Homo sapiens: one gene and its partners. The gene in region 5 interacts genetically with the main gene of each other region. Each region holds a gene or a part of one and is shown on either strand. Other genes may lie near its edges. The genes, in order: ATP1A1, RTF1, PGK1, SDHC, NDUFB2 and FH.

What was found.
Region 1: changes in NDUFB2 (region 5) and ATP1A1 together harm fitness more than expected from each alone (negative genetic interaction), as found in Homo sapiens cells (one large-scale study listed by BioGRID).
Region 2: changes in NDUFB2 (region 5) and RTF1 together harm fitness less than expected from each alone (positive genetic interaction), as found in Homo sapiens cells (one large-scale study listed by BioGRID).
Region 3: changes in NDUFB2 (region 5) and PGK1 together harm fitness more than expected from each alone (negative genetic interaction), as found in Homo sapiens cells (one large-scale study listed by BioGRID).
Region 4: changes in NDUFB2 (region 5) and SDHC together harm fitness less than expected from each alone (positive genetic interaction), as found in Homo sapiens cells (one large-scale study listed by BioGRID).
Region 6: changes in NDUFB2 (region 5) and FH together harm fitness less than expected from each alone (positive genetic interaction), as found in Homo sapiens cells (one large-scale study listed by BioGRID).

Annotation. Positions count from the first base shown.
Region 1 is NC_000001.11:116,382,117-116,387,326, reverse strand, and holds part of ATP1A1 (sodium/potassium-transporting ATPase subunit alpha-1), read right to left. Parts: intron 3,958-5,210; exon of another isoform or gene 3,774-3,957; intron 3,314-3,773; coding exon 3,203-3,313; intron 2,545-3,202; coding exon 2,485-2,544; intron 40-2,484; coding exon 1-39. UniProt on the Homo sapiens protein: This is the catalytic component of the active enzyme, which catalyzes the hydrolysis of ATP coupled with the exchange of sodium and potassium ions across the plasma membrane.
Region 2 is NC_000015.10:41,461,444-41,466,653, forward strand, and holds part of RTF1 (RNA polymerase-associated protein RTF1 homolog), read left to right. Parts: intron 1-3,327; coding exon 3,328-3,442; intron 3,443-4,697; coding exon 4,698-4,809; intron 4,810-5,210. UniProt on the Homo sapiens protein: Component of the PAF1 complex (PAF1C) which has multiple functions during transcription by RNA polymerase II and is implicated in regulation of development and maintenance of embryonic stem cell pluripotency.
Region 3 is NC_000023.11:78,124,748-78,129,957, reverse strand, and holds the end of PGK1 (phosphoglycerate kinase 1), read right to left. Parts: intron 5,085-5,210; coding exon 4,907-5,084; intron 4,632-4,906; coding exon 4,533-4,631; intron 4,169-4,532; coding exon 4,128-4,168; 3' UTR 663-4,127; downstream 1-662. UniProt on the Homo sapiens protein: Catalyzes one of the two ATP producing reactions in the glycolytic pathway via the reversible conversion of 1,3-diphosphoglycerate to 3-phosphoglycerate.
Region 4 is NC_000001.11:161,355,265-161,360,474, reverse strand, and holds part of SDHC (succinate dehydrogenase cytochrome b560 subunit, mitochondrial isoform 1 precursor), read right to left. Parts: intron 3,799-5,210; coding exon 3,635-3,798; intron 1-3,634. UniProt on the Homo sapiens protein: Membrane-anchoring subunit of succinate dehydrogenase (SDH) that is involved in complex II of the mitochondrial electron transport chain and is responsible for transferring electrons from succinate to ubiquinone (coenzyme Q).
Region 5 is NC_000007.14:140,694,151-140,700,158, reverse strand, and holds the start of NDUFB2 (NADH dehydrogenase [ubiquinone] 1 beta subcomplex subunit 2, mitochondrial precursor), read right to left. Parts: upstream 3,452-6,008; 5' UTR 3,415-3,451; coding exon 3,317-3,414; intron 3,245-3,316; exon of another isoform or gene 3,082-3,244; intron 1-3,081. Other genes in the region: ADCK2 (uncharacterized aarF domain-containing protein kinase 2), read right to left, coding at 5,356-5,496. UniProt on the Homo sapiens protein: Accessory subunit of the mitochondrial membrane respiratory chain NADH dehydrogenase (Complex I), that is believed not to be involved in catalysis. Complex I functions in the transfer of electrons from NADH to the respiratory chain.
Region 6 is NC_000001.11:241,512,512-241,516,911, forward strand, and holds part of FH (fumarate hydratase, mitochondrial), read right to left. Parts: intron 1,203-4,400; coding exon 1,092-1,202; intron 1-1,091. UniProt on the Homo sapiens protein: Catalyzes the reversible stereospecific interconversion of fumarate to L-malate. Experiments in other species have demonstrated that specific isoforms of this protein act in defined pathways and favor one direction over the other.

The DNA of each region.
Region 1 (5,210 bases), on a different chromosome or scaffold from region 5:
TCGCGCCAGGATCTCAGCTGCACGAGCAGATGTTAATCCCTGAGAAGCAGTGGAATATAAATAAGGCAAACTGTACCAGCACTTACAAGGCAATATACCTACCTGGTAGCTGGACGGTTGCAATAAGGATTTAAGGAAGAAACAAAATGTCCCAAGCTAGAGAGCCAAGGTAAAACCTAGCAAATTCCTCCATGAATAATTCTGCTGATGAGCCAGTCCCCACAGGGTTCAGGCAAACAATAGGCCCAAGGAACTCATAACACCCAGATTAAAACTCTTTAAATTGATCCATCAATAAATTTGAATTCAGCCTGGTTTCTTCTAAGTTTTAGATCAAGGGATTAATGCCAAATTGCATTTCTGCCAAAAAGGTATCTATTTTCACAAATCCATTCAGTTTTGCAAATTAAGAGCTTTGGGTTTTCTGTGTATTGATTTTGTCGGGAGGGGAAAAAAAACCCCTCTACAAACATCAAAGGAGAAAAAAACTTCCTGTAGAAATCCTTTGGGTTAACAGCCAAGTTTTAAATATACAGCTTGATTCTTTGCTTGTCTGGCAGGGAAGGGCTCACCTCCATGTGCATTTTAGCCACCTCCCAATAAACCTGTTGACTGAAAAGTACTCACTGGAAAAAACCACTCTACTAAAGCCTGCTATTTTTCTAATGGGCCTTAAACCCAAGATTCACTGACAGCAGGCAATTACATATAAGCTCTCATTAAGAGAGGAAAATATGATCACTTTTATACTCTCAAAATAACAAGTCAAAAAAAAAATAAAATATTTTTGTCTAAAGTATCTATTTATCTGTGTTTTGTGCTCATGTTACCAAACATTTGAGTGCTATCTACATGCCAGGAACTGAATTCAGTGCTTTAATTAACTTGTTTAATTCTCATGACAATCCTTTTTTAGGCATTATTAACCTCATTTTATAAGTAAAGAAATAGACCCGCAGCATTTGAGTAATGGGCATAGGTCGGAGAGAGCACACTTCATTAAGACTCTAATAAAAACTTAAGTGAGATGTGAAGTGGCTAGAGACTGCCTGGCACAAAGTAAGCACAGAGTCACTGTTGGCATGTTGTTCTGAGCTGACTCGAGGCCTCCTCTTGGAGCTTAAAGTGCTTGTGTCAAGAAAAACGCTCTCAACCTTGTTCTTCTCTCCTTTTTTTTTTTTTTTTTTTTTTTTTTTTTTTGAGATGGAGTTTCACTCTTGTTGTCCAGGCTGGAGTGCAATGGCACAACCTTGGCTCACTGCAACCTCCACCTCCCAGGTTTAAGCAGTTCTCCTGCCTCAGCCTCCCGAGTAGCTGGGATTACAGGCATGCACCACCATGCCAGGCTAATTTTGTATTTTTAGTAGAGACGGGGTTTCTCCATGTTGGTCAGGCTGGTGTCGAACTCCTGACCTCAGGTGATCCACCAGTCTCAGCCTCCCAAAGTGCTGAGATTACAGGCATGAGCCACCGCACCCGGCCTCTTCTCTACTCTTACACCCCAACAATCAACACAGAAGATGACTTCTGTGAGCAAAGGTGTGGCGGTTTCTCCCCACCACCAAGGTTTCCTCCAATTCAATTCCAACACTATCTACCTGGAAAATCAGAAAAGTGGAACAAGATTAGAGTCCTGCCTTGCGACAGGTGAAAAGGAGGGCAGGAGAGAGATCCTGTTTCTTGAAGCCTGCCACTGAGGTCTAACACACCCAACATTATAACAAACGACTGTAATAAGGGCTATGGGAGTTATGAACCAGGAACTGTGGACAAAAACCAATATATATCAGAATACCACAGTACCCATGTCTCTTGATGCCTTACTGAAAAAATGCTACATATTGGCTTGCTATTCAAGTTATTCCCAGACATTTCAGTGATTATCTGGAAATAAGACATCCCTAGACTATTTACTTTTATAACATTTGTTACACATTTAATATCAAAATCCTCTACATAACAAGGATACATAACGCCTATTTTATGAAAAGGTTTCTTTAATTTTTGTACAAAACAATTTCCAACTAAATGATAGAATAACTAAACAAATGATAGTATAACCATAACACACTGCAATGGGCTAGCTGGGAAAAGTGCAAAAATGGGAATTGTTGAAGATTCAACTAGGTGAAAGATTCAACTCTATTTAACAAATGTAGAAAAATAAAGGGAAAATTTATCATCAAAAGGTCAAGGCATAAGCATGGCTTTGAAGCCAACTGCAAGTCCTGGTGTTCCCACTTACTGGCTCTCAACTGCTATAAAATAGGGAAAAGAAAATAACATCTACTTTCAAAAAGTTTCAGGGAAAAGAAACGGTAGCATATAAATGCCCAAATTCTGTGCATGTCACATGGTAGATACGCAGATGGTGTCTGTCATTTTCTTACTAGAGCCCCTGAGGTTAGACCTGTATGTAATACAGGGGAAAATATAATACGGAAAACTAGGATTTTGTACAACAGCTTTCAAACTAGAACATACCCGGCTCAAGTCTGTTCCATATTTACGATGAAGTTCATCAAGGCTAAGTTTATGATCATCCTAAGGGAAAACAGAAACAAAGAAAATAGTTAAACAGTGTAGTATAAAAAAATGACAGAAAAAATAGCATTATTCATTACTATCATTAAGCTTATTAAACAAAGTGCAGATGTTTTCTTCAGTGCATAAGTTGGTACAATTTTCACCATCGCTTTGTGGCTTTGCAACCACACAGTTATCATTGACAGCTCTTCACTGGAGAATGGCTAAAGCTGAGTGACCGTGGCCCATTACTATTTGCCATAACACTTCAGAGAAACCCAGCAGCTCTCAGGGATCTAGTAAAACCTTATCTGCCTTCTCTGATGACCAGGTCGATTCTAGACAGGTTAAGTCTATGGAAGCTTCCATCGCCTGGAGAGGCTGAATTTCCCAATGTTTGATATAATACAGAGAAAAGCAAAGACTCATGGTATCAACCTAAGTTCCTTCTGTTATCTCTGGTTATGCCAGAGTGACTGAATAACTTTTCCTACCCTCTAACAGCTTTTAAAAAGTATATGTTCAACATTAACCTCTACGACTAGATGAGATCTGTACAGCTGCTATGATCTCTTTTAATATATAGCAGTTCTTTGAAGAATACAGTGAGGCCTGGGGGATTAAAAATCATGGATTTTTAATAAGGATGGAATACAATATTCCTCCTAGTACTTACCATAGAAACTTCTTTCTTCAGTTCATCCATGTCCCTGTCTTTTTTGCCCTTTTTGCCCTTTTTATCACCTTGTTCTGAAACAGCTGCAGGCTCATACTTATCACGTCCAACCTGTAGGAGAATGTGGGAAAAGTGAGGCCATGAATTATGAACCTCATCTGAAACTGAAAATTCTGGAGCAGGGGATTTTGGTAGTTTTTAAGGTAGTCATAATTTGGAATAGTCATTAAGATAATAGTCAGGAAAATGTATACCCATATATTGCCTACTACATAAGCAAAGCAATCTACTATTAATACATTGGCTCAAGATACATTCTCTCCATCCAAGAGCATTAAGAACAATACTGAAGCTACCGGTAGGCTTCAGAATGGCCCTGCCAGTGCCACTTCCTTTTGGGGTTAATGAGGAGATTTTTGCTATCAAAATCCCTATTCTGCAGCCTTCCATCTTCCCTACTGAAAGAATGAAACTAACTTTACATTATTAACTTAGAGTGCAATATTGTGCTTATGAGTCCGCATTCTCAATCAGACAGCCTTGAGTTAAAATCCTGGGCTTTACCACTTACCAGCAGTGTATCCTTAGGCAAGTTACTAACTTCTACATTTCAATTTCCTCTTCCACAGCGTGGAGATAAAGAATAGTGCCAACCTCATTTCATGTTTTTAAGGATTAAATGATACAATACATCTAAATGCTAGTACTTTTATACTGTTTATATTCTTTGCTTTGCAAAGACATTATTACATATCAAATTTAAATATCTTTAGTGCTCACATAAGAACACTGACCTTTACCAGCTTCCCATATTAAAAAGTCAGCCTAAGACTCCTTAAAATTCTTTGCATAAGAGATAAAAAAGGGAGCGCCCAGCCCATTCTGTAGCCTGAAAATAAAACCTCCAAAATGAAAGTCTCTGGAAATGTTTTGACATAAGCAGGATGTAGGAAAAGCGTGTGCATTATCACATAATTCACAGGATCCACCTACGCCTCTTGAAAACTGGAACAATTTTTAAAGAAAATGTTGATTCTATAGTTTAAATTTAGATTGTTCCACTCCCCCACCCCTGTTGAAAAATCCTTGAGCTTATCTACACAAAGCCTGAACTTGGTGCTCCAAAGCTTAGCGGAGCAGAAGAGCCCCTTGTTCCAGACACCTCCCCCTGAAGCAGCCTCCCACAACTACAACTTAAGGCCAAAAAGTAGACATTAGCAATTTTCTTAAAATGCATGACATATGGTGCTATTACTATTATTTTGTGGTTCTCCTTTACTCATTTCTAACTTTCCTAAGTGCATTACCAGCTACTAAAGCAATAATTAGGAACTCGTGTCCAGATTATAATTTCACTGTGCTGAAATGAAAAAAGAAAATCAAAACGTATTATGTGTGTTTCAGTCATAACTAATAGTTGCAAATAAAATACATTGTTCACTTAAATTTAAAAATATCCTCTTAAGACTCCAAGGAGAAATCCTTCTCCAAATTCACTGGAGTGGGCCACATGTAGAGACACATTATTTACCTTTTTAACTTCTGTGGTCACGTGTGCAGCACTACTTGACTAATAACTTCTTCCAACTGGGTGGGTTCTTTAGTTTCTATCTTATCTATTAATGAAGCAGGTCTAAAGATAGTCAACATTCTTGACATTCTCTCCATTATGGAGCAACCACATTTGTTGGTGCCTCTTTCGGTACAGCTCTTGGTGCCAGAGTTTAAATGAAAAATAGTAACACATACAAGTGGACAAATAAAACAAAAAGGAAAAGGCAGGTCATCTACCAGAAAGGAACCACAGCTAAAGTGGTATATCTTTAGCTTTAATTAAAGGTATATCATACCTTTAATGAGAAAGCACAACACTTAAAAAACATTTTAAAGACATTGACTAAGGATCTCTAAAAGATTTATGTGACCACTTTGTATTAATTTTCTTTTTTTTGGGGATGGAGTCTCACTCTGTCGCCCAGGCTGGAGTGCAGTGGCGCAATCTAAGCTC
Region 2 (5,210 bases), on a different chromosome or scaffold from region 5:
AGTGCTGGGATCACAGGCGTGAGCCACCACACCGGCCTGGCTAATTTTTCTTTCTTTTTTTTTTTTTGAGACTGAGTCTCGCTCTGTCCCCCAGGCTGGAGTGCAGTGGCGCAACCTCGGCTGACTGCAAGCTCCGCTTCCCGGGTTCATGCTATTCTGCCTCAGCCTCCCAAGTAGCTGGGTTTACAGGCGCCCGCCACCACACCCAGCCAATTTTTTGTATTTTTAGTAGAGATGGGGTTTCACCGTGTTAGCCAGGACGGTCTTGATCTCTTGACCTCGTGTTCTGCCTGCCTTGGCCTCCCAAAGTGCTGGGATTACAGGTGTGAGCCACCGTGCCCGCCGGCCTGGCTAATTTTTCATATTGGCCAGGCTGGTCTGGAGTTCCTGACCTCAGGTGATCCACCCACCTCGGCTTTCCAAAGTGCTGGGATTACAGGCGTGAGCCACCTCTCCTGGCCCTGTAATTTTTTTTTCTTTTTTTTTTTTTTTTAGAGAGGGGGGGTTTGCCATGTTGCCCAGGCTGGTCTTGAACTCCTGGCCTCAAGCAATTCGTCCACCTCGGCTTCCCAAAATGCTGGGGTTACAGGTGTGAACCACCACCCCCAGCTTCAGTGACTTTTTTTAGTGACTATAAGAATGGTTTAGTGTGCTGATTATTAAGACAGAGGTTCAGAGCCATCATAGAAAATTGATATTTTAGTAGTTCGTTTGTTTAGCTTCAGGGCAGTGCAATATGGAAACTCTGGAATTTCCTGAATCTTTTTTACTTTAAAAGCTCTTTATATGGATTGCATTTAATCTTTGTAGTCTTTTTTATGTAAGCACCATTAGCATCCTGTTCTCTAGCCAGCAGCACCAGTAGTGAGATGTCATTTTCAGTTGTTAGATTATTCATGGGGGCAGGAAGCATAAAAGGTAGCCTGGTTGTAGAAAGGGCACTGACATTGCAGTTAGAAGGTCTAGGGGTCAAGTCAGACTCGCTGGAGGGGTGATCGGAGTTAAATCACTTTCTCTTCCTGCCTCAGCTTCCTCCTGGGGGTTGTTGTAAACCTCAAGAGAGATTATATACATAAGAACATTATGTAAATGTAAACTATCACTAACTCTAAAAAATAACTTTGTTTAAAATAACCCACTTAAAGTGTATAATTCATTGGTTTTTATATGTCCACAGAGTTGTGCAATCATCACCACAATTAATTCTAGAGCATTTTGTCACTCCTGTATTTCCCCATAAGCCTCCCAGCCCTAGGCAACCACTAATCTCCTTTCTGTCTCTCTAGATTTGCCTATTCTGGATATGTTTATTATTATTGTTGTTGTTATCAAGACAGGGTCTCGTTCTGTCACCCAGGCTGGAGTGCTGTGGCATGATTATAGCTCATTGAAGCCTCGACCTCCTGTGTTCAAGCAATCCTCCCACCTCAGCCTCCCAAGTAGCTGGGACTATAGGCGTGTGCCACCACCTGGCCAATTTTTTAAACTTTTATTAAAGAAGAGGTCTCGCTATGTTGTCCAGGCTATTCTTGAACTCCTAGCCTCAAGCAGTCCTCCTGCCTTGGCCTCCCAAAGTGTTTAGATTACAGGCATTAGCCACCATGGCCGACCTGGATATTTTATATAAATGAAATCATAATATGTAGTCTTTTGTGACTGACTTCTTTCACTTAGTATGTTTTTGAGGTTTATCCATTTAGCATGTATTAGTACTTCACTCCTTTTTATGTCTGAGTAATATTCCATTTTATGTATATACCACATTTTGTTTATCTGTCCATCTGTTGATTTATATTTGTGGTGTTTCCTCCTTTTTGCTATTGTGACTGGTGCTGCTGTGAACGTTTATATACAACAATTTGAGTACCTATTTTCAGTTCTTTTGAGTGTATACTGGAAAGTAGAATTGCTGGCTGGTACGGTAACTCTTTCTAACTTTTTGAGAAACTGCAGCTGCATCATTTTAGATTTCCCATCGGCAATAAGTGTACTAGTTTCTCCACCTCTTCACTAACACTTTAACACTTGTCTTTTCCTTTTTTTGTTGTTGTTGAGACAGGGTCTCACTCTGTCGCCCAGGCTAGCTAGAGTTCAGTGGTATGATCATGGCTGGCTGCAGCCTCAATCTCCTGGGCTCAAGCAGTTCTCCCACCTCAGCCTGCCAAGTAGCTGGGACTACAAGCATGTACCACCATGTCCAGCCAATTTTTAAAATTTTTGTAGAGACAGGGTCTCACCATGTTGTCCAGGCTAGTCTCCAACTCCTGGACTCAAGTGATCCTCCTGCCTTGGCCTCCCAAAGTACTGGAATTACAGGTGTGAGCCACCGTGCCTGGCCTCCCTTTTTGTGATAATAGCTATCCTGGTGGGTGTGAAATGGTCTTTCATTGTGTGTTTTTTGTTGTTGTTTGTTTGTTGTTTGTTTTCAAGACGGAGTCTCACTCTGTCGCCAGGCTGGAGTGCAGTGGCGTGATCTTGGCTCACTGCAACCTCCGACTCCTGGGTTCAAGCAATTCTTCTGCCTCAGCCTCCCGAGTAGCTGGGATTACAGGCACATGCCACCATGCCCAGCTAATTTTTGTATTTTTAGTGGAGATGGGGTTTCACCATTTTGGCCAGGATGGTCTCAATCTCCTGACCTCGTGATCCGTCCACCTTGGTTTCCCAAAGTGCTGGGATTACAGGTGTGAGCCACTGCACCGGGCCTGTTTGTTTGTTTGTTTATTTTTTGAGATGGAATCTCACTCTGTCGCCCAGGCTAGAGTGGCGCAGATGAGTACAGCAATACCCTATATATGTTCTCTTTCTCTCTCTTTTTTTTTTTTTGAAACGGATTCTTGCTCTGTCGCTAGGCTGGAGTGCAGTGGCGCGATCTTGGCTCATTGCAACCTCCCTCCCGGATTAAAGCGATTCTCCTGCCTCAGCCTCCCAAGTAGCTGGGACTACAAGTGTGCGCCACCATGCCCAGCTAATTTTTGTATTTTTAGTAGAGACGGGGTTTCACCATGTTGGCCAGGATGGTCTCGATCTCTTGATCCCCCCGCCTCGGCCTCCCAAAATGCTGGGATTACAGGTGTGAGCCCCTGTGCCTGGCCCGTAGTCTCTCATTTTAAACATATTCCAACTTAATGCTATCAAATATTTTATATTTTGTTGTAATTAACATATTAAATATTTTTAATGTACTTAAAAGGTACACCAGAGTTTCTTGCAGGAAAGCCAAAATATCTATTAGCTCCTTTCCCTTAGTTCCTTTCTCCTATCTAATAGAAATCAGTTTTTATATACATTTCATTGCTACTTAAAAACCAAATATCTTTTAACCAGATTTGAAATCAAGAAAAAACTAAAAACAGCCAAAAAGAAAGAAAAGAAAGAAAAGAAGAAAAAGCAAGAAGAGGAGCAAGAAAAGAAAAAACTGACACAGATTCAAGAATCTCAGGTAGGAGATTCAGTGTTCCTCATTGTCCAAAGAATAAACCTGTTTTGAGTGTGTGTGTGTGTGTGTGTGTGTGTGTGTGTGTAAAAGGTGGATTTATATTAATCAGCCTAAGTTTATAAGACTTGTGACATGGTTTCATTAATCTCTGGACATATCACCATTAGCTGTGCTGTTAAATCCTTAGCACTTTTTCCTTTGCTTTCCTTTTTCCTTTTCTTTTTTCTTTCTTCTTTCTTTTTCCCTTTTCTTCCCCTCCCTTCCTCCTTCCCCCTTCCCTTCCTCCTTCCCTTCCTCTTCCCTTTCCCTGGTCTCATTATGTTGCCCGGGCTAGAATACAGTGGCTATTCACTGGCACAGTCATAACACACTGAAGCCTCAAACTCCTAGTCTCAAGCAGTCCTCCTGAGTTGCTGAGACTACAGGCATATGCTACCGTGCCCGGCTTTCACTGAAGTCTGCATTTAAAAAGCAGCCCTCAACTGCAGTGACTCACATGTGTAATCCCAGCACTTTGAGAGGCCGAGGCAGACAGATCACTCAAGGCCAGGAGTTTGAGACCAGCCTGGCCAACGTGGCGAAATCCTGTCTCTACTAAAAATACAAAAATTAGCCTGGCGTGGTGGCTTATGCCTTTAATCCCAGCTACTCGGGGGGCTGAGGCACAAGAATTGCTTGAACCTCAGAAGCGGAGGTTGCAGTGAGCTGAGATCATGCCATGGCCCTCCAGCCTGGGCAGAAGAGCGAGGCTCTGTTTTAAAAAAAAAAAGCAGCCCACTAGTGAGTGACCATCCCTTAAGGAAAAGTTGGTAAACAACCTGTCCTAGGTAGCCAGATGCTTATGATGTTTACTTAGATGTATATCATCCTTTACTTGGTATAAATATAGCTGGGAAAATAATCTCTGTATTTATCATAAATGAGACTCCATCTCAGAAAAACAACAAAAAAAGATAATGTGGGGCTGAGTGTAGTGGCTTATGCCTGTAATCCCAACATTAGCTGTGTTGTAGTGTGTTCTTCCAGAAAGAGTTTATTCGGATAATTCTTGAACTTGGAATAGGCATTTTAGACAGGGCTTACTTTACTGCGCTATCCTCTTTGTCCACAAGAGGATGCTCTCTCCCCTTACATAAAAGCTCTAAGTTTTTGCAGCCCATATAGATTGATGTTGGAGGACTAAATGCATTAAGTAGGTTTAGAGAATCTTATCAGCTGTTGGTAAAAAGGGCCATTCTATATATCCTTCCCTTCCTAGGTAACATCCCACAACAAGGAACGGCGTTCCAAGCGGGATGAGAAACTAGACAAGAAATCTCAAGCCATGGAGGAGCTAAAAGCAGAGCGAGAAAAACGAAAGAACAGAACAGGTAAGCGAGGGAAATATAATGGCTACTTGTGTCTTTATATGATTTGACTTCCTGGTGTCCATTTTCATTTTGCCCTCTTGTTATATCTTTCTCATATAAAATTCCAGCACATACCCAGAATAGTATAAACATCCACAAACCCATCATCCAGCCACAGCAGTCAGCTCTTGGCCAGTCTTGTTAAATCTATAATCCTTTCATCAGATTATTTTAAAGCAAATACCAGCATTATTATATTTTAACCATAAATATTTCAGTATGTTCCTCTAAAAGATAAGTACTTTTGTTTTAAACCTAACTATAATACCATTATTACACCTAGAAATAACAATGAACTCTTTGTCAAATATCTAGTCAGTGTTCAAATTTTTCTATTTGTTTTGTAATTTAAAAAACAAGAT
Region 3 (5,210 bases), on a different chromosome or scaffold from region 5:
TCCATCATTTACCAACTGTGTGACCTTACTTCACCTCTTAGCCTTGTTCTCCTCACTAGCAGTAGGAAAGTAACACCTACCCTGCCTACCTCACAGGGCTGTTGTGAGGGTTCAATTGGTATATGTGAAAATTCTTTCAGAATTGTAAAATGCTATATGACTGTAAGGAATTATTGCATTTGTTCCAAGGTTAATAAAAATTTGAGCTTATCAGTGTTTTCATTTTTTAGGATTCAAGGGAGATGAACAAAGCCCAGTAATTCTGATGGCCAAAGACCAGTAAGATTTGTTTAATGGTTATATATCAGAAAATCACTTGCTTTTATCTGGAATCAGCATGTGACACCATCATAGTGAAGCAAATTGAAAATGAGTAGAAGAATATGGGTTTAAATCTGTTGTCCTTCAGCTTCTAGGTGGAATTTTTAAAAAATAATATGTGCTGATGGTAAATGGGATGAGGACACTGTTACCTCCAGTTCTTCCTTTTATGGGTAGCAAACAAGTGTCTATGATCTGAGTACGAATATAGGAATATAGCCAGCATGGGGCGGGGTGAGAATGGAAGATGTGATGCACACTATGTTCTAAGGGATCCAAGGTGACAGGGAATATTCAAGAGGCAGGAAAGAAAACACTAATCAACTACAGAACAGCAGGTATGCCACCATTTACATTTTAATATATCTATATACAGATAGATAGATAGATAGATAGATAGATAGATAGATAGATAGGTACACACATGGGTATGCTCTTTATGCAGAGTCTCACTGTTGCCCAGGCTGGAGTGCAGTGGCGTGATCTCGGCTCACTGCGAGCTCCGCTTCCCAGGTTCACGCCATTCTCCTGCCTCAGCCTCCCGAGTAGCTGGGACTACAGGCGCCCACCATCACGCCCAGCTAATTTTTTGTATTTTTAGTAGAGACAGGGTTTCACCGTGTTAGCCAGGATGGTCTCAATCTCCTGACCTCATGACCCGCCTGCCTGGGCCTCCCAAAGTGTTGTTGGGATTACAGGCGTGAGCCACTGCGCCCGGCCTCTTAATGTATATTAAATAGCCTTAGATTGAAAGAAACTGGTCTTCCAGAGGTTGCTTCTGGGGAGGGAAACTGGTAGGTAGGGGACTGAGGAAGGTGTCTTCATTGTATACTCCTTTTTGATCATGTGTAAACCCCTGTGCTAGAGGGAAATTTTGGAAATGAAGAAAACAGGAAAACACTGAGCTAAAGAACCAAATTGTTCACTTACGACATGGGAATTATTTTTTTCTGCATATAAACACACATATATAGTCTAGGGTTAAAGGTGAATTTACAACTTAAAGCATACACCTTTGCAATATTTTACCAATAATTCATAATTCCAAATTAGAAAGCACATCCTTATACTGTTTTGTGGGGTTTTTGTTTTGAGGCAGAGTCTCACTCTGTCGCCCAAGCAGGAATGCAGTAGCGTGATCTCAGCTCACTGCAACCTCCACCTCCCGGGTTCAAGTGATTCTCCTGCCTCAGCCTTCTGAATAGCTGGGACTACAGTGGCACACGCCACCACGCCCGGCTAATTTTTGTATTTTTGGTAGAAACGGGGTTTCACCATGTTGGCCAGGCTGGTCCCAAACTCCTGACAGGTGATCTGCCCGCCTTGGCCTCCCAAAGTCCTGGGATTACAGGCGTAAGCCACCATGCCCGGCCCCTTATACTGTTCTAGCTTATATGCACACAAGTTATCTACTATCTTCTTTGGTTAGGTTAAAAATTCCTTCAGAACATAAATGCTCTTATATTCCCTCTATCACGTCTTTAAGCACATAGAAGGAACTCAAATATTTGCCTAATTGACAAGTTGTTTATGACTGGAGATTCCCCCATTCATTCTTTAGGTTAACAACCCAAATAAATGAGGGGTGATCCTGGAAACAGTCCAGTAGAAAGTACTTAAAAGGTACAGTCAGAGATTGTTGGATAGATAATGTTGGCAATTGTAGAGTCTAGGTGCTGGGTTTATGGGAGTTTATGCTTCTTTCAGTTCCATTTGAAATAATTTTTAAAACGTTGGAGGAAAGGTAATCAGTAGGAAAAAGTCACAAAAATTGGACTAGAATTCCTGAGTACCCATAGAGGTATGCAGAAACATGGTACAATTTAAAATTAACTACAAATATGGGTACAGTATTAACTAAAATACAAATGAAGAAAAAACTTGAGCTTTCAAATTTCTGTTTTGTTTAGAGCAACCACCAAAATTTTCTTTTGCTATTCTATCCAGGGTTAAACAAAATAGTCTAGAAGCATCATGTCAGGGATAGAGTCTAGAAGCATCTATAGCCTAGAAGCATCATGTCAGGGACGGAGGCACATTGGAAAAGCATCAGCCACTGGAACCAGACAAACCTGGACTTGAATCCCTGCTGTTACTTACTAGCTCTGTGGTCCTGTCCAAAAGTTTATTTCTTTGTCCCTAAAGGTGAAATACATATCTTTCCAGCACAGAATTTCTGGTCAGACATGGCTTTTTCAAATCATGTTTACCTCTGCTCTCTCCCAAAACTCCATTAAAAGGACAGGAAAGAAATAGGAAGGTAAAATTATAAAGATGATGAAAGAATCCGAATGGCCATTTAGATTCTCAATAGTGACAATGAAACAGTGGCTTCGAGTCTCAAAAAGTGATACTCAGGCTAAAATTCTATATATAGCCAAACTAGGAATCAAGTATAAGGGTCGAATAAAGACATTTTCAGACTTACAAAGTCTTAGAGATTTTGCCTCCCAGGCACCCTTTCTCAGGAAGCTAGTAGAGTCTTGTGTTCTACAAAAAGTAGACCAAGAAAGAGGGAAAAGGGGGAATCCAGAAAACAGGAGTCTAACACAGGAGGTAAAAGAAATCCCCAAGAAGGTTATAGGAAATACCAGAGCAACAGCTAGCTGTACACCCTGCCTAGAGGGCATCAAGTACAAATTGGATAAAGGAGCACTAAGGACTCCTGCAGGGATAACTCTAACAAGGATTATTCAATATGTTTTAATATATTGAGACACTTATGCTTCTAGAAGATTTGGGAATGAATCACTGATGGGTATACACAGAAAATTTTTTGAAACACTGTTAATGCCAAAGACAATAAAAGTTACATAAGTAAATTTAATCATAGCATACTACATAGCTCAGCTGTATTAGTTATGTAGACTTTTGATCTAATCTATAATTGTGACAAAACTATACCGAGAGAATGAAGAAGTGGAAATATATGTGGAACAGAGCCTTCCTCCATGGTATGAAATAGATTTCTTTAAAAAATAAAAAAAAAAGAAGTGAACAATATAAGCATATTACTTAGAAACATGGAGGTATATACCTGAAAAACTCAAGAGTTGAAAGTGGTCACCTCTGGGGAGTGGGAATCTTGAATGGGAGGAATGGGCTGGGGCTTTTTTGTTATAAGCCTTGACTTTTTAAATTATGATCATGTGTAACTGATAAAAATAAAAGTTAGAATAAAAGCACTAGCACAATGTCTGCCATAAAGTAGGCCCTTGATAAAGAATGGACATTTATCTAATTGTCCCATCTCTCCACTGCTGCTGCCCCACTTCTTGCATTCAGCAATATAGACATCTGATCCGTTCCTCAAGATTCTATTCTCACCCTTCCTAACAAAGTATGACAGGAAAAAAAAAAAAATCACGGTTTCAATGGACACTTTTATTGTTTACTTAATGGATCATCAATTTTGTCTCACTACCTACAAATGGAATTTCATCTTGTTTCCATGCTGAGTAGTGAAACAGTGACAAAGCTAATCATAATAACCTACATCAAAAGAGAACTAAGCTAACACTGCTCACTTTCTTTTTAACAGGCAAAATATAAATATATGCACTCTAGAATGCACAATGGTTTAGTCACTAAAAAATTCAAATGGGATCTTGAAGAATGTATGCAAATCCAGGGTGCAGTGAAGATGAGCTGAGATGCTGTGCAACTGTTTAAGGGTTCCTGGCACTGCATCTCTTGGCCACTAGCTGAATCTTGACATGGAAGGTTTTAGCTAATGCCAAGTGGAGATGCAGAAAATGCTAAGTTGACTTAGGGGCTGTGCACAGGAACTAAAAGGCAGGAAAGTACTAAATATTGCTGAGAGCATCCACCCCAGGAAGGACTTTACCTGTTTTTGAGAGAGCACACATACATAGACAGCATTACTATAGGGCCCAGTAAGCCAGATTTCCCCCACTTTATCTTCCCAATAACATGCCAGCTCTTTTTTAGGATATATGGCCAGGAGCTGGCCAACTTTTACATTGTGGATTCCAGGTCTACTAGACCATAACTCTCAGACCAAGTTTCTATCTGTCCCTCCCCGCCTCAGTGGATGCCAGGAGCTTTATCTGAAGTTCCTCTGTACTGCCCAGGTAGTAATGACTGCTAATGACAACACTACCTTCTAACTTTCTCCACTCCATTCTACCCACCTCTCACTGCACAGTCCACCCTTATCCCAAACAAGCCAAAAAACAGAAGACCCTCACCTTCCAGGAGCTCCAAACTGGCACCACCCCCAGTGCTCACATGGCTGACTTTATCCTCCGTGTTCCATTTGGCACAGCAAGTGGCAGTGTCTCCACCACCTGTTGAATGAAAGCCAGGTAAAAAGGGAAAAGAGAGAAAAGAAAAAAAAGGGATTGGCACCAAAACTGTAAGGCAGTGTGCTCCCCAACCCAAAAGGTAGCTGATAAACCCCCAACTCTATCTTACCAAGAGGCTCCTCTGTAAATTACCTACCTGTTTACCTCTTAACATTTACCCAGAATAAAGAGACATAGAAGAAGTTCTCCATTCCACCTTCCTCTGATCAGAATTCTGCCAGCTTATATGGGTATTAGCTTTGTATAGGACCGCTTACCTATGATGGTGATGCAGCCCCTAGAAGTGGCTTTCACCACCTCATCCATGAGAGCTTTGGTTCCCCGGGCAAAAGCTTCCCATTCAAATACCCCCACAGGACCATTCCACACAATCTGCTTAGCCCGAGTGACAGCCTCAGCATACTTCTTGCTGCTTTCAGGACCACAGTCCAAGCCCTGAGGGGTAGAGGTGAAAGAGAAGATGAGCTATCAAGAAAAGCTACTTAAACACCACCTCCACCAAGACCAGAACTCAGGGCTGCACACCAAAGTTTCTTCTAGAAACAAATAGTACCCTTCAGT
Region 4 (5,210 bases), on a different chromosome or scaffold from region 5:
AAGCAATCCTCCTGCCTCAGCCTCCCAAGTAGCTGGGACTACAGGCACCCATCACCATGCCCAGCTAATTTTTTGTATTTTTGGTAGAGATGAAGTTTTGCCACGTTGCCCAGGCTAGTTTTGAACTCCTGAGCTCAAGCAATTCACCTGCCTTGGCCTCCCAAAGTGCTAGGGTTACAGACATGAGCTACCATGCCCCCAGCCCCACATTTAACAAAACACTAATTTTGACTCTCTTGTGTCTTAGGGATATTAACATATTAATATTATATTATAAGTCACTAAATGAGCCCATGGGGCAAAAGCAGTCTTCATTTTCCACACTTCCCACATACATGGCGCCTTAACACACACATACACACATACACCCACAGTCTGAATGTAAAACTGCCTAAATTAGGAGTCAGTTCAGAGAAAAGATGGAAGCCCAGAAAAAAAAAAAAAAATCAAGATGAGAAGATGCCTCCACCTCAACCCTCAAATTGCTTCTAACTAGGAGATTAGGAGTCAAGCAGATTCCACAAAGAGTTGTTTTGCTTAAATAAGGACAATGTTTTATAGAGAGTGAGTCCTACTGGGTAGCAGTAGTAGGCAGGGATATTCCCTAGAATGCCACAGACCCTATAACATCCTACTCTTTCACTCCTCACTCCCCCATTAGATCTTCTGGCAAGTCAACTATCAAGTTCAGAGGCCAAAAACTGCAGACTGTCACAGAAAACACAAAATCCTGTCCCACACTCACAGCCAGTACTTGCTAGAAGAAAAAATAAAAGCAGACTTAAGGACCCTTAGGTTCTTCACTTCCCTCAACAAAAAGATTACCATCACAGGCAAGAACCAGGGCAGAAAAGCTCTAAGTTCTGCAATTTTATAAAACCTCCCCTCTCTTACCCCCATATTGAGACAAAGACAAATATAGGGCAAGTCTCTGTCTGAGCCAAAATATGAACAGAGGAAGCTGATCAGCTGATTTTCTTTACAGAGCTTTGTTCTGTGGAATAGGAAGTCATTAATGGAAATGTCCTCCCTCTCTACTGCCTCCCCCTCAGGGAAGTAAAAAGTCATTTTAAATCAAACTGAACACTGCCCCAGGGAACAGTTGATACAGACACTTAATTTAATAAGTAATTTAGTCTCTCATTTTTTTTATTCCATTAAACTGTCTATTGGACCAGACTGAAATCCAGAAAGTGCTTGTCTCTAAGGCTATGATTTGGAAGTAATAAAAAGTCAAATTAAGGCAAAAGCATCCATCTGACAGTTGACTCAGATTCAGAAGTAATGAAAATACAGAAAGAACTGAATTTTAATTGCCTTCTTGGAAGCAAAACTAGGGAGACTACAAAATATAAAATCTTTTCTTTTTTTTTTTTTTGAGACTGAGTTTCACTTTTGTCACCCAGGCTAGAGTGCAGTGGCATGATCTTGGCTCACTGCAACCTCTGCCTCCTGGATTCTCCTGCCTCAGCCTCCCAAGTAGCTGGGATTACAGGCACATGCCACCACCCCCAGCTAATTTTTGTATTTTTTTTTTTTTTTTTGAGACGGAATTTCGCTCTTGTTGCCCAGGCTGGATGGAGTACAATGGCATGATCTCAGCTCACTGAAACCTCTGCCTCCCGGGTTCAAGCAAGTCTCCTGCCTCAGCCTCCCGAGTAGCTGGGATTACAGGCATGTGCCACCATGCCCGGCTAATTTTGTATTTTTAGTAGAGACAGCGTTTCTCCATGTTGGTAAGGCTGGTCTCGAACTCCCGGCCTCAGATTATCCGCCCGCCTCGGCCTCCCAAAATGCTGAGATTACAGGCGTGAACCACTGTGCCCGCCTATTTTTTTTTTAGATGGGGTCACTCTGTCACCCAGGCTGAAGTGCAGTGGCACAATCTCGGCTCAGTGCAACCTCCGCCTCCCAGGCTCATTCGATCCTCCCACCTCAGCCTTACGGGTAGCTGGGACCACAGGCGCACACCACCATACCTGGCTAATTTTAGAAACCAGTTTTGAGCAGACGATGAGGTCACATAGGAGGCAACATGGACAGTTTCCAATCTATTAAATGATTCCTGCCATGTGCAGTGGCTCGCGCCTGTAATCCCAGCACTTTGGGAAGCCAAGAGTTCAAGACCAGGCTGGCCAACATGGTGAAACCCCATCTCTACTAAAAAATACAAAAAAAAAAAAATTTGCTGGGTGTGGTGGCAGGCACCTGTAAGGCTGGCCAACATGGCAAAATCCCGTCTCTACTAAAAATACCAAAAAAAAAAAAAAATTAGCTGGCCGTGGTTGTGGGCACCTGTAATCTCAGCTACTTGGGAGGCTAAGGCAGGAGAATCACTTGAACCTGGGAGGTGGAGGTTGCAGTGAGCTGAGATTGCACCATTGCACTCCAGCCTGGGCAATGGAGCAAGACTCTGTCTCAAAAAAAAAAAAAAAAAAAAAAGATTCCTAACCTCAATATTGAAACCTGGAATTCTTGGCACCCAGTTTCTATTAAAGTTGGCCCAATTCTGTCCAACATCTCAAAACAGAAATGCAATATAATGTGTAGATAAGAAAAGGTAATCTATTTGAGTCCTGTCAGAAGCACTACTCTGGGTCAACAGGAACGGAAGAATGAAAGCAGCAACAATGGTTATCTAGCTCATAACTGAATCCCCAGTGTCTACAACAGTACCTGACACATAAATAGGTACCAATTAATATTTATGTCATAAACATGCATTCTATGCCTTCAGGGATCTCTTTTAAATATCCCTCTTAAAAATGAAGAGTTCAGCAGGGCACAGTGGCTCACGTCTGTAATCCTAGCACTTTGGGAAGCTGAGAGGGGTGGATCACAAGGTCAGGAGTTTGAGACCAGCCTGGCTAACATGGGGAAACCCCATCTCTACTAAAAATACAAAAAATTAGCCGGGCGTGGTGGGAGGCGCCTGTAGTCCCAGCTGCTCGGGAGGTTGGGGCAGGAGAATCTCTTGAACCCAAGAGGTGGAGTTTGCAGTGACCCAAGATCGCGCCAACTGCACCCCAGCCTGGGAGACAGAGCGAGACTTTGTCTCAAAAAATAAAATTAAATTAAATTAAAAAAGGAAGAGTTCCCAATGAGACCCTGCAAGTATCTGTGAGGCCTATACCATTGCTCAGCTACACCACCAGCAGGACTGCCAGGTAACACACAGGGGAACTTGTGAACTTGTCTGGCTTTCCCCAAGAGGACTCTGAGTCACAACTAACCTTAAGAACAGCACTAGCTGGGCGCGGTGGCTCACGCCTATAATCCTAGCACTTTGGGAAGCTTAGGCAGGCGGATCACTTAAGGCCAGGAGTTTGAGACCAGCCTGGCCAACATGGTGAAACCCCATCTCTACTAAAAATACAAAAACCAGGAGTGGTGGCATGCGTCTATAACGCCAACTACTTAAGAGGCTGAGGCACAGGAATCTCTTGAACCCAGGAGGCAGAAGTTGCAGTGAGCTGAGATCGCACCACTGCACTCCAGCCTGGGCAATAGAGCGAGACTCCACTCTTGGGAAAAAAAAAAAAGAACAGCACTAAACCCAGTAATGAAGGAAAGAATCCTCCCAGTCTCCCCACTCCCTTCACAGAGAAAATGTGCAAATCCCGAATTAACTTACCAAGTGTCGGATCCCATTCCAGGTATGATACATGAGAGGGAAGACAAGTGCAAACTTAGCTGTGTGGATCAGTGCTGGCCCCAGACACAGGGACTTCACAAGTTCCAAATAAGACTCAAAGTTCCCAGGGAGTAACAGGGCCGACATGCCAAAAAGAGAGACCCCTGAGGAGAAAACCAAGTAGCTTGTCACAGCTGCTCATAAGTTACAACTAATATGATACATAAAACTGGGACCCCTGGCACCTCATACAATTCTAAACCATTTTGAAATGGAGAAGATTTTTGTTTTCTTTTTTTCTTGAGACAGAGTCTCATTCTGTCACCCAGGCTGGAGTATAGTGGTGCAATCTTGGCTCACTGCAACCTCCACCTCCCAAGTTCAAGCGAGTCTCCTGCTTCAGCCTCCTGAGTAGTGGGGATGACAGGTGCCCACCACAACGCCCAGCTAATTTTTGTATTTTTAGTAGAGACAGGGTTTCACCAAGTTGGCCAGGCTGGTCTCGAACTCCTGACCTCAAGTGATCTGCCCACCTTTGCCTCCCAAAGTGCTGAGATTACAGGTGTGAGCCACTGCACCCGGCCTTGAAAAGGAGAAGATTTAAACTCATGTTCAAGTTTATGATGGGAGACAGACTACTTGGGATCTCATCATAAACTAAATGTGCCATATGTTTTAGTATGTTATTCCTCCTTTCAACATCCGTCTCTATAAAAACTTCACTTGCCAGTTTAGACATCAAGCCTTGCTATATCATCTAGTTCATCATCTAACTAAGAAAAGGTAAAAACAGTGTACTCAGTCCAGAGAAGAGTCAGAAAAAAAATTAGGTTCTCTTTTTTTTTTTTTTTTTTTTGAGACAGAGTCTCGCTCTGTTGCCCAGGCTAGAGTGCAGTAAGCGTGATCTCAGCTCACTGCAACCTCCGCCTCCTGGGTTCAAGCCATTCTTGTGCCTCAGCCTCCCAGGTAGCTGGCCTTATAGATGCATGCCACCATGCCTCGCTAATTTTTGCATTTTTAGTAGAGACAGGGTTTTGCCATGTTGGCCAGGCTGGTCTCAAACTCCTGGCCTCAAGTGATTCGCCCACCTCAGCCTCCCAAAGCGCTGGGATTACCAGCATGAGCCACTGCGCCTGGCCCTTTTTTTATCTTTATCTTCTAGTGTTGCTACCTCTGAAGAGAGGAAAAATTTTAAATCATTCAAATCTCTATTACACAAAAATTTAAATTAAAATGAATTAGAGACCTAAATGCTAGAACTAAAACTATAAAACTCTTAGTAGAAAGCATAGAAATAAATCTTCATGATCTTGGATTAGGCAGTGGTTTCACAGATGACACCAAAATCATAAATGACAAAAGAAAAAACAGATGAATTGGATTTCATCAAAATTACTAACTTTTGTGCTGCAAATAATACCATCAAGAAAGTGAAAAGACAACTCAAAGGAATGGGAGAAAATATTTGCAAATCATGGAGGACTTTTATCCAGAATACATAAAAAACTCTTACAACTCAATCAATAAAATGACAAATGGATCTGAATAGACATCTTTCCAAGGACGATAAATAAAT
Region 5 (6,008 bases):
AGAGCGAAATTCTGTATCAAAAAAACAAAAAAGATCTGAGTAATGCCGATGCCAGCATTATAGTTCAAACCCATCTTAGCAGCTCCCCACGCTTCGTTATTGCTAGAGTGACATGTTGTTTTAATCATAACCTGAAGTAGGGACTGCAAAATGGAAACCTTTTGGAACAAAGATTTGAAAGTCTGCAATTATATCACAGGAACAATGACAAGGATTGCCATGATTAAGGAATGCAAAGACTCAACACCTAATTCACAATGTTATGTTCCAAACCAGGTTGTGAACTGCATTGTGGCAAACTAGATACCCTGAACAACCCTCCAAATTAACAACTCTGCTGCTAGATGAGATTTTTAAGATTTTTACAAACATCACTGACCAGGCACAAAAGGAAGGAATCCACCAAGAGCAAAATTCAAGTAAAAACAAGGCCTGGAAGCTAAGCAATCAATCACTGAAGCTGCCTTCACCGGGAGCCCTTGAACCTCCACCAGGATAGCTACATGAGGTGTGGGGAAAGAGACGCAGCCTGGGGCCCACCCAAGGTGGGAAGGCTAATGACGAGGTCACTGAATAAAGCTGCAACCCCATATGGTAAAAGGGTGAACAAGAAATAAACCTTCCATGGACAAGGGAACAAGAATTTGTTATCAGAAGCCAGTCCTCAGGTAGATTTGCACCCAAATTCACATTACCTGCGTTGGACCTGTGTGGACCAAAAACCCCAAGCCGAGAATTTAATGTGAGCCTGAATTGGGGTGGCACCCTCAAGAGACTAAGAGAAGCACGATCTCAAAGAAATTCCAGGGAAAACAAGCTCAAGATCAAAAAACATAAGGAAGTAAGACACTATCAGCAAGTCCTGTAAGAAGGAAAGAGAATGGGGAAGAAACAACATCCAAGGAAATAATGGCTGTTCCAACTTCAAATGTTTGAGAGTCAAGTTTAAAAACAAAAATGCACCATAACTCTATTAGTTACATTTTTATTTTTATTTTTTTGAGACGGGGTCTCACTCTGTCACCCAGGCTGGAATGCAGTGGCACGATCTCGGCTCACTGCAACCTCTGCCTCCTGGGCTCAAGCAATTCTCCTGCCTCAGCCTCCCCAGTAGCTGGGATTACAGGCGCACACTACCATGCCCAGCTAATTTTTGTGTTTTTAGTAGAGATGGGGTTTCACCGTGTTGGCCAGGCTGGTCTCGAACTCCTGACCTCAGGTGATCCGCCCGCCTCAGCCTCTCAAAGTGCTGGGATTACAGGTGTGAGCCACCGCGCCTGGACAAAGTTACATTTTTAAAAAATAAATCAGACCACATTACTTTCCTGCTTTAAAACTCCAATGGCTCCCTGTGATTCTTAGAATAAAATTCCGAGTCCTCCAAAGCCCCCTCTAATCCGGCCCCCACACTTGTCCCTGTGACCTGGTCTCTCCCACTCTTCCCCTACGCTCCACTCCAGCCTGGCCTCCTGCCAACCCTGCGGGCTCTGGCCTCTCCACCTGATGCCTCCTCTGCCCTCTTATGTCCACCGGGCTCTTCCCTTGAGGTCTCTGCATGGCTGACTTCTCATCCCTCAGGTCCCGCTTCAAATCACACTCCCAGGCATTCCCACGCCATCCCCAAATACAATATCCCTTCTACTCCCACACCACGCATTCTCCATATTAATCCCCAGCTGTATTCTCTTCATAACCCTTAACAGTACTCAAAAAAGGTCTTTCTTTTCTACTGGTCTCTCCTCTCCAGAATGTACACTTCATTCTCTCTCGTATTCTGCTATATCCTCAGCACCTAGAAAGGAGCAGCCATATAGAAGATGCTCCATAAACATTTATGCACTTAATTATCACACACTCTGAAACAAGTGTGTGTTACGAACAAGCCAGCACCTCAGGGAAGATCGGCATTCCCCCATCTCCTCATGCAGGACCAAGGGCTGTCGCTCATGGCTCTCCATCACTGTCTTTGCCCAAGTCACACAGGGCTTTGCCTTCTGCCCACCCCACACCTGCCCCAGCTCCAGATTCTTCATCCATGTGGGACTTCAGGCAAGTCACTCCTTTCATTTCCTGGGCCTCAGTTCCTTAATAACAACAACAGTTAAAGAATACTTGTACGGTCCTTAGCAGGCACCAGCAATTGTTTTAAACACTTTAGTGAGACCAAGCGCAGTGGCTCGCCTGTATTCCCAACACTTTGGGAGGCCGAGGCTGGAGAATCACTTGAGCCCAGGAGTTAGAGGCTGCAGTGAGCTAGGATCGCGCCACTGCACTCCAGCCTGCCTGACAGAGTTAGACCCCATCTCCTAAAACACACAAACACGCTTTAGATAACAGTAACTCATTTAGTTCCTTGCAAATGGACGCCAAATGGGTGAGGAAACTGAGGCATTAAGAGAATAAGAAACTTTTCCAAGGTCCCACAGCTGGAGTGTGGCAGAGGTGGGATTTGAACCCAGCCACTGTGCGGCCAGAATCCCGCTTGGAATCACGACCCCACACTGCCTCTTGGTAAAGTGTAGCTGATGATCTAAGGGACCTGGAATCATCCATGACTCTTTTCCAGTCCTGCTCTTACGGAATCTCTGCACACCACTAACTCGGCTTCGGCAGCTGCTCCCTACCTCGCACCCGCTCCCTACCTCGCACCCCCAGCCCTCCGCCCTCCGGTCTGCGTCTCGGGCCACCTCGCGGGCGGCTCTGCCTGTCACTCTCCTAAACGCCACGGCTGCCCCAGCGTTGGCTTCCGGCTTTCTGCTCCTCTCACCCGACGGCGCTCTCTCTGGGCGACAGCCTCCACTCCCTGCAGCCAGAGTGATTTTTCAGCATTAAAAAGCGGCCACGTGACGTCTCCGATTAAAGGCTGCCGAACAGACTCTACCCTAAATTCCGCAGCCAGGCACCGGGACCCTGGACCGCGCCCTCCCTAGGCCTCACCGCCGCCGCCCCCCGCCTCGCTCCAGGAGCGTCCACACCCGCCGCGCACGCTGCTTCCTCCGCCTGGACCGCCCGCGCCGGCGCCGACTGGCTCAGCCCGCTCCGCATTCACGCGTGCGTCTCCCGAGGGCAGGCGGCCCCTACTACCATGACGGCCCTGCACACGGTGTCCCATCTGCCCAGCGAAGTCTCTCCCTCTCCCTCCGGCCAGCGGGGTCCCTCTCCTCGAGTCGCGGCTTCAGGAGACACGCGGACTACAGGTCCCAGCATGCCTCGGGACGCGGCCTCTTCAGGCGCCCCAGTCAAGGTGAGAGCGTCCCAGGGACCCGCGCTGTCCGCTACAGGCCGGCGAGGCCCCCATCCCCAGCCCCACACTCACTGACGGACTCCACCATCTCCAGCAGTCCGTGCGCAGCCGCTTCTGAAAAGGCGGCCTCCAACGCGAGCGAAAGACGCCAGCCGAGTCAGAGCGGACATACTCGCTCCCGTCCGCCCCGCGGTCCCCAGCCGCCTCGCCCCTGCCTACTTCGCTTCCCCGGCGCTCCGCCCGCGCCTCCCGTGACGTCACAGAGTCGCTCATCTCCAGGAGTGGGGGAGCCGGCAGCCGCTCCTGACCCAGATTAGCTGTGAGTCCTTCGGCTGCAGGAAACCTCTCTCCCGAGAGCAAAGCCCACGCATAACTTATGGTTGCTGAGCTGCCCCATGCCTTCTGAAACAGCTTGTTGGTTGCCCCTCTGATCCTGTAGGGCTCTCCCCGTGTTCTGCCCCTCCTAAAACTGAGTGGTGTATAATTCTTTTTTTTTTTTTTTTTTCTTTTTGAGACAAGGCCTTGCTCTGTCACCCAGGCTGGAGTGCAGTGACACCATCTCGGCTCACTGCAACCTCTGCCTCCCAGGCTCAAGCGATTCTCCTGCCTCAACTTCCCGAGTAGCTGGGATTACAGGCATTGTGCCAGGCTAAGTTCGTACGCAGCAATAGATAATGCCACAAATGGCTTGATTCGATCCACTGGCTTTAAGGCTGGGTTGGCATAGGCTCAGGGAAGAGACTGCCGTCTTTTTGTCCCTTTCCCGCCTCCACACTGTACCTGATGCGCACTGGCACGAGGGGCTGCGTGACCAGCTGGTGTTCTCCCTCCCAGCCATCTGGAGCCATCCCAACCCCTCTCTGCCTGCTTTGAATGTCCCCTCAAGACCTGGGAAGGAAAAAATAACATCACCTCCTTGAAAAAAACTGCACCAAAGGAATCTCTGTCCACCTAAACCATACTGCTCACTAAAAGACAGGAATGAGGAACTTTATCCTGGAGAAGGAAAGAATGGGAGAAACTAGTCCTGTAGTCAGGGCAGGACTCTCGGAGAGCGCAAGGGCTTGACTCCATTCGCTGCCTGGTGGTCTCTAAGACGAGCAACATAATCTATGAAGGTGCAGGGATAAACTGTGATTTTACCTAAAAAAAAAAAAAAAGAGAAATTAAGCTTTACAAATACCCCCCCTCCAGGCTGACCCCGGGCCCCTCCTAGTCAGCCAGACGGCCACATCAGCTCAGCTCTGAGAAGAAAGCCCGTGGTTGGGCCTGGCAGAGAGGGGCAGGTGGTGGTCACTGCAGGTCTGTCCCTGGGCGCTGCCATGGAGAAGAGGACACACTGGTTATATTAACTCTCTTCATATTCACCAAAATTAATGCCTGCAAGTGGACAGGCGCAGACACTGTGGCAGAGAAACTGTAGTTCCGGACTAGCGGGTGAACCCGGGGCCATGTTAAGGAAGTGGCCAAGCCGTTCTGCTCACGTCCCCGGTATGTCAGCCACTTTCATCAGTTTTGTTTTACCTTGTAATAAAAGTTACCAAGGAGTTAGCAAAATCTATTAAAAATTACCAAGAAGATAATTTGAAGTACAATGAAATTTGCCCTAAGTGTATATTATGCTGGCAGGTAGCACCTGCATGATATTTATACATAAAGAGTGTGTGTGTGTGTGTGTGTGTGTGCACATGCCACAGATCAGTAGGACTTGATGGCATTTTCTAACCTGAATATCAAAGTCTGGGAACTACCAGCAGTACCCATCTGACCAGGGAGTATAGCGGGTCAAGAAATGAGAAAAACAGGAAAACAAAATAAATTTATTCGTCCTCCTCCACATAACATTTTCCCTGAAGGAGAGTGTCCCTGGCACCTGGCCCAGCTTCCACAATGGAATGGATAGGCCCCTTCCCTCCTTTTACTCCCTAATTGGCCCAAAGCTTTTGAACAGACCCTCAAACCAAGCAGAGGAAGCCATGGTGTGCCTTCCACCACTGGAGGGTTACATTTGAAATTGGTGTCCCAATTTTAAAACGTCCCAGCTGCCATAGGAGAGGCTCTTGGGAGTGGCCTCCAGCTCTTGACAAGGGCCCACAGAGGCCACTGCCCCATCACGGGGGGCACACTGGGCCCGTGAGGAGGAAGGGCCTCGCTGCCTCCAGGATGTCCAGTTTGGGGTCCAGTGAGCGGCCAAGCCCCTCCAACACCATGATGGCAAACACAATGGAGGCAAAGTTGCTCTCAAGCTTTACCTGGAACAGAAAAACAGAACAGTTCATCTCAGAACATGCTGATACAGGGACGTGTGTTCTGGATAATCACCTTGCTGTCCACTCTCAGCCTCCCTCAGACCTGCCCACGGGATGTTTACCATCTACCTGACATTCTCTTCTCTACCGCGTCATCTCCCCAACCATCTCACCTACTCGCCCAGCCTCCCATCTACTGGACACACTAAGGAAAAATCTAGGGGTGCGGAATATACTTTTCTAGGTTTGTGTCCATGTGTGTATGAATGAATGACCAAATAAATCTTTCACACACATCCCAGAAACTATACATTTAAATACAGGTAATTCTTCGAAACCTACAGTAACCTTTATGTATGTATGTATTTATTTATTTATTTTAGAGACAGGGTCTCACTCTGTCACCTAGGCTGGAGTGCAATGGCAAGATCATAGCTCACTGCAGCCTTGAGCTCCTGGACTTCAGGGATCCTTCTGCCTCAGCCTCCTGAGACTGGGACTCTTTTTTGTAAACA
Region 6 (4,400 bases), on a different chromosome or scaffold from region 5:
TGAGTTCACTAATAGCTACTTCATTGCACAGATGTCCAATGAGCAGTAATCACCAAATGTAGAAATAAACGCTGCCCAGATTTGCCCCTATTTTTGTTGTATTTTTATACATCCAGCTTATGTGTTAGTTTTTGGATGGTGTGCTTTGTAAAATATGGGTGGTTAACAATCTTCTGGAATGATTTTAGCTTAAAAAATCAGAATGCACTTGAGAAATCTATTACCTTGAACAACTGGTCCACTTTAAAATAAAACTTTTTTCTGGTTATATAAAAATATGTGATTAGTGTAGAAAATTTTGAGAACTGAGAAAAGTAAAACAGTCACTATAGTTCTATTGCTCAGTAATTATGACTATTAGCATGTTGGCATCCCCAGTCTCTATCTCATGCAATGAGGGTGTGTGTGTGTGTGTGTGTGTGTGTGTATATGAGAAACACACACTTTCTGTTCATTTTTTCCTAAACAAAATTAGGATCGTAAAATACATATATTTTTGCAAACTTTCCTCCCTATTTCTCATAGGCTAGGCTTTGTGCATGCCAATCTTCAAAAAAGTAATTTTCTATAATTTACCATATAAATATAATTTATATAAGTAGCTGTTATAGTTACGCATTGTCTAATTTGTTTTCATTATTATAAATAGTGCTGTAATTAACAACACTATATATACAGTTCTGTTACCTCTGATTGCTTCTTTAAGACAATGTTATTAGCATATTAGTAAAATTACATTCTCAATATGCATTATCAAATAATCAACTGGTTTTAAAAAGATTTATATATAAAATAAAAAATCAAGTAAAGTTCAAATGATATCTTTTCAAAAAATTTTCTTAAAACTATATAAATTAAGGAAAGTCAAAAGGCTTAAAAACAAAAGGTATAAAATCATCCAGAAATTTTGTCACAATGTAACGTTTTAAGCACCATATTAATATCACCACTAAAAATAATGCTACCACCCTCCCCTGAAATTCATTAATTCAAGAATTCACAGTTCCCCTTTCCTTCTGCCAGAGCATATCGTCATCCAGAGTATGGCATGGGTCTGAGGTTATTAAGCAAACACACTTATCACCTCCTACCTCATCTGCTGCCTTCATTATTGCATTAGCAATCTTTGGATCAAGACCATAATCCTGGTTTACTTCAGCGGCCGCTCGCTTCAAGATGCCAAAAGCTTTAATAACTGGGGTCTAAAATTAATCAGAAAAATATTTCAAATTTACAATTTTACTTAAGCATGGAAGTTTATTATTTTGGCAGATGCAAAAGCTATACATAAAACAATAACAATAAAACAGTAACACTATAGCTCTAAAATGTTTCGGTTATAGAGAAAGATTATAGACAGGAATTCATGAACCAAGAATCAACATTATCATAGATCTATTTGTTTAAGGAACCAAATAAAAACAAATACATTGACTCTTCATATATATATGTGTGTACGTCTCCCACATACATATACACACATATTCACACGAATACAATCCTATGCACAAATACACACAATAAATTATATGTGTTTATTTCATATACTATAAATAAAAACAAATTTAGTACTCAATCTTTTCACCAGCAAGAACCATTATTTTCTCTTACTGGATCCCACGTTACATTATAATTGTTTCCTTCCCCTCTTAAAAAAATAAATAAATAAGGGATATATTTAACTGCCAATCAGTATGAGACTACCAGTGACTGACTGGGTTATCATTTCACCCCAAGGCCAAAAAGCAATCTATTCTACTTAGCTAGTAAAGCCTTAATACTCAGTAACTCCCTGGACATTTCTCTCAGAAGAATTATTTTTTTAAACCCAAGATTCTCCAGACCTAAAGGTGACAGCTTCCGATATATATAAAACCCCATTAATGCAGATATTTTCATTGTCTATCCCAAATCACCTCACCAAGCTTGAAAAGGATAAACTGAAATGAAAACCTAGTTTTTATAAGACAAGTGAATTGTGAGTTCTTGTCAAAATTAATAATACAGATTGTTGTATAGATCCCACACCAGGTTTGAATGGGGAAAGAGTAGAAGGGAGAAAGGGAAGAAAGGAAGAGAATGATGAATGTATAAGAGAGAACCTGCTATCTCTGGAATCAAAGTAGAAAAAGCCAAGAAAAGTAAGAAATAAGACACATTAAAAACATAAACCTGGACCAGAGTAAGTATAAGCTGAGGGTCAAATAGAAAAGGAAAACCAGAAAATTTGAAATTTCAATTTTAAGTAACTAAAATTAAAACATTAGAAACGTTTGACTCAAACGAAATGAGGACAGATGGCACACAGGATTAGAAACTTAAAAACTTTAAACACAAAAACAAATGGGAATTTAAATCTCCACAGTAACAAACACTGAGGTAGTGGGCTGAACCACTACCAAGGGCAAAGGTGAATGCCAATCAACGCTGGCCATCTGAATGGAGTGAATGACCCCCAGTGTTTATGGACCATAAAAATAAAAAAGGGTCATTCACAGCAGAAAGAGGTTCAACGAACACCATAAAATGGCAAAATGTATCACTAGAGAGAAAAGACAGGTCACTTTATTCTTAATTTATTCACATTAGATGTTCATAATCTTTTTAGCTTTGTTTTCCTCTGGACCTCAAGTAAAAAGGGTTGAGTTTAATCATACTACTCAGTTTAGAGTACATACAGACTGTTTTACACATAATAAAGTTCAGAAAGTATGACAAAATCGAGACCCCAGGTGTCTGCCTTTCACAGGTGTGCAATCCCAATGGCTGTGCTGTCTCTGGAGCAGCAGCAGCAGGAACCATGCCCCACCAGAACCACAAAACATGCTGGTGACACAGATCAATGAAAACGGCAGCCATGCTCACTCCCACCAACACTAGCTGGGGCTGACCTCCTCCTTAGTCTCTGGAGTTGAATAATATGAGATTATTTTAGGATTGGTCACTACCCTTTTTCACCTAACCACGTAGTCAAACTATGTTTACCTCACCACCAAGAAGGCTGTAGATGGCAATGACAAAGATATTCTCATCAAAGATTCAGCTGCCTGTTGTAAAGTTCTATATACCTGTCAAGAGGCAGTCTTGAAGGCTTAGGAATGACTTAAAATTATTGAAAATAAAAGCATATTTATAAGATAAGTGTTAAACAATATCTCACAGGATGAAGCCTATCTACTTCTAGGCTTACTAGCCTATCCTGCATTGACTATTTTTCATACTCCGGTTGGGCTCCCGTAGAATATGTTATGCATTTCTCAATTCTTTTCACACTTTAACATCTCTGAAATCAAGATGTATCTTGTAATCAATGGTAAGTCACAACCTTAATTGGTAGCATTTTTCTTTCTTAGTGGTGCCTATTGGTGCATCTTCTAATTAATGGCATCTTAAATTTAATTGAATGTGGTAGAAAGTTTTCTCATCATTTAATCATTCATATGGAATTGAATAAATACTTATATATTATCTATTATATGTCAGACATGGTTAAGAGTAATACTTTGATGTGTTTGTGTACTATACACTTTTTAGGAAACTGAAACCAAAATACAAAGTGTAATTTTAAAAAATCTCAGTTTTAAATTAGTGGGGGAAAAAAGAATGAGTATTGAAATAAAAATATTTACAAACTGTAGAACCCTAGTAAAAATCTGTAAATACCCAGCAAGAGTGAAAAGACAATCATTTAGTTCTGCCAAATAAAAATCCAAAATAACTATTCACAATAGCAAAGACATGAAATCAACCCAAATGTCCATCAATAAAGGATAAAGAAAAAGTTGTATATATCCACCATGGAATATTATGCAACCATAAAAAAGAATGAGATCATGTCCTTTGCAGAGATATGGATGGAGCTAGAAGCTGTGACCCTCAGCATACTAACAGAGGAACAGAAAACCAAACCCGCATGTTCTCACTTGTAAGTGGGAGCTGAACAATGAGAACATATGGACACAAGGAGGGGAACAAAGCACACAGGGGCCTGTGGGCGGAGGGGGAGCAGCAGAAAAAATAGCTAATGCCGGGTTTTAATATCTAGGTGATGGGTTGAGAGGTGCAGCAAACCACCATGGCACACATTTACCTATGCAACAAAACTGCATATCCTGCATGTGTATCCCGGAACTTAAAATTAAATTAATTTTTTTTTTTTTGAGACGGAGTCTCACTCTGTCGCCAGGCTGGAGTGCAGTGGTGCGATCTCAGCTCACTGCAACCTCCGCCTCCCGGGTTCAAGCAATTCTCCTGTCTCAGCCTCCAGAGTAATTGGGACTACAGGCGCGCGCCACCGTGCCCGGCTAATTTTTGTATTTTTAGTAGAGACAGAGTTTCACCATGTTGGCCAGGATGGTCTCGATCTCTTGACCTCGTGATCTGCCCACCTTGGCCTCCCA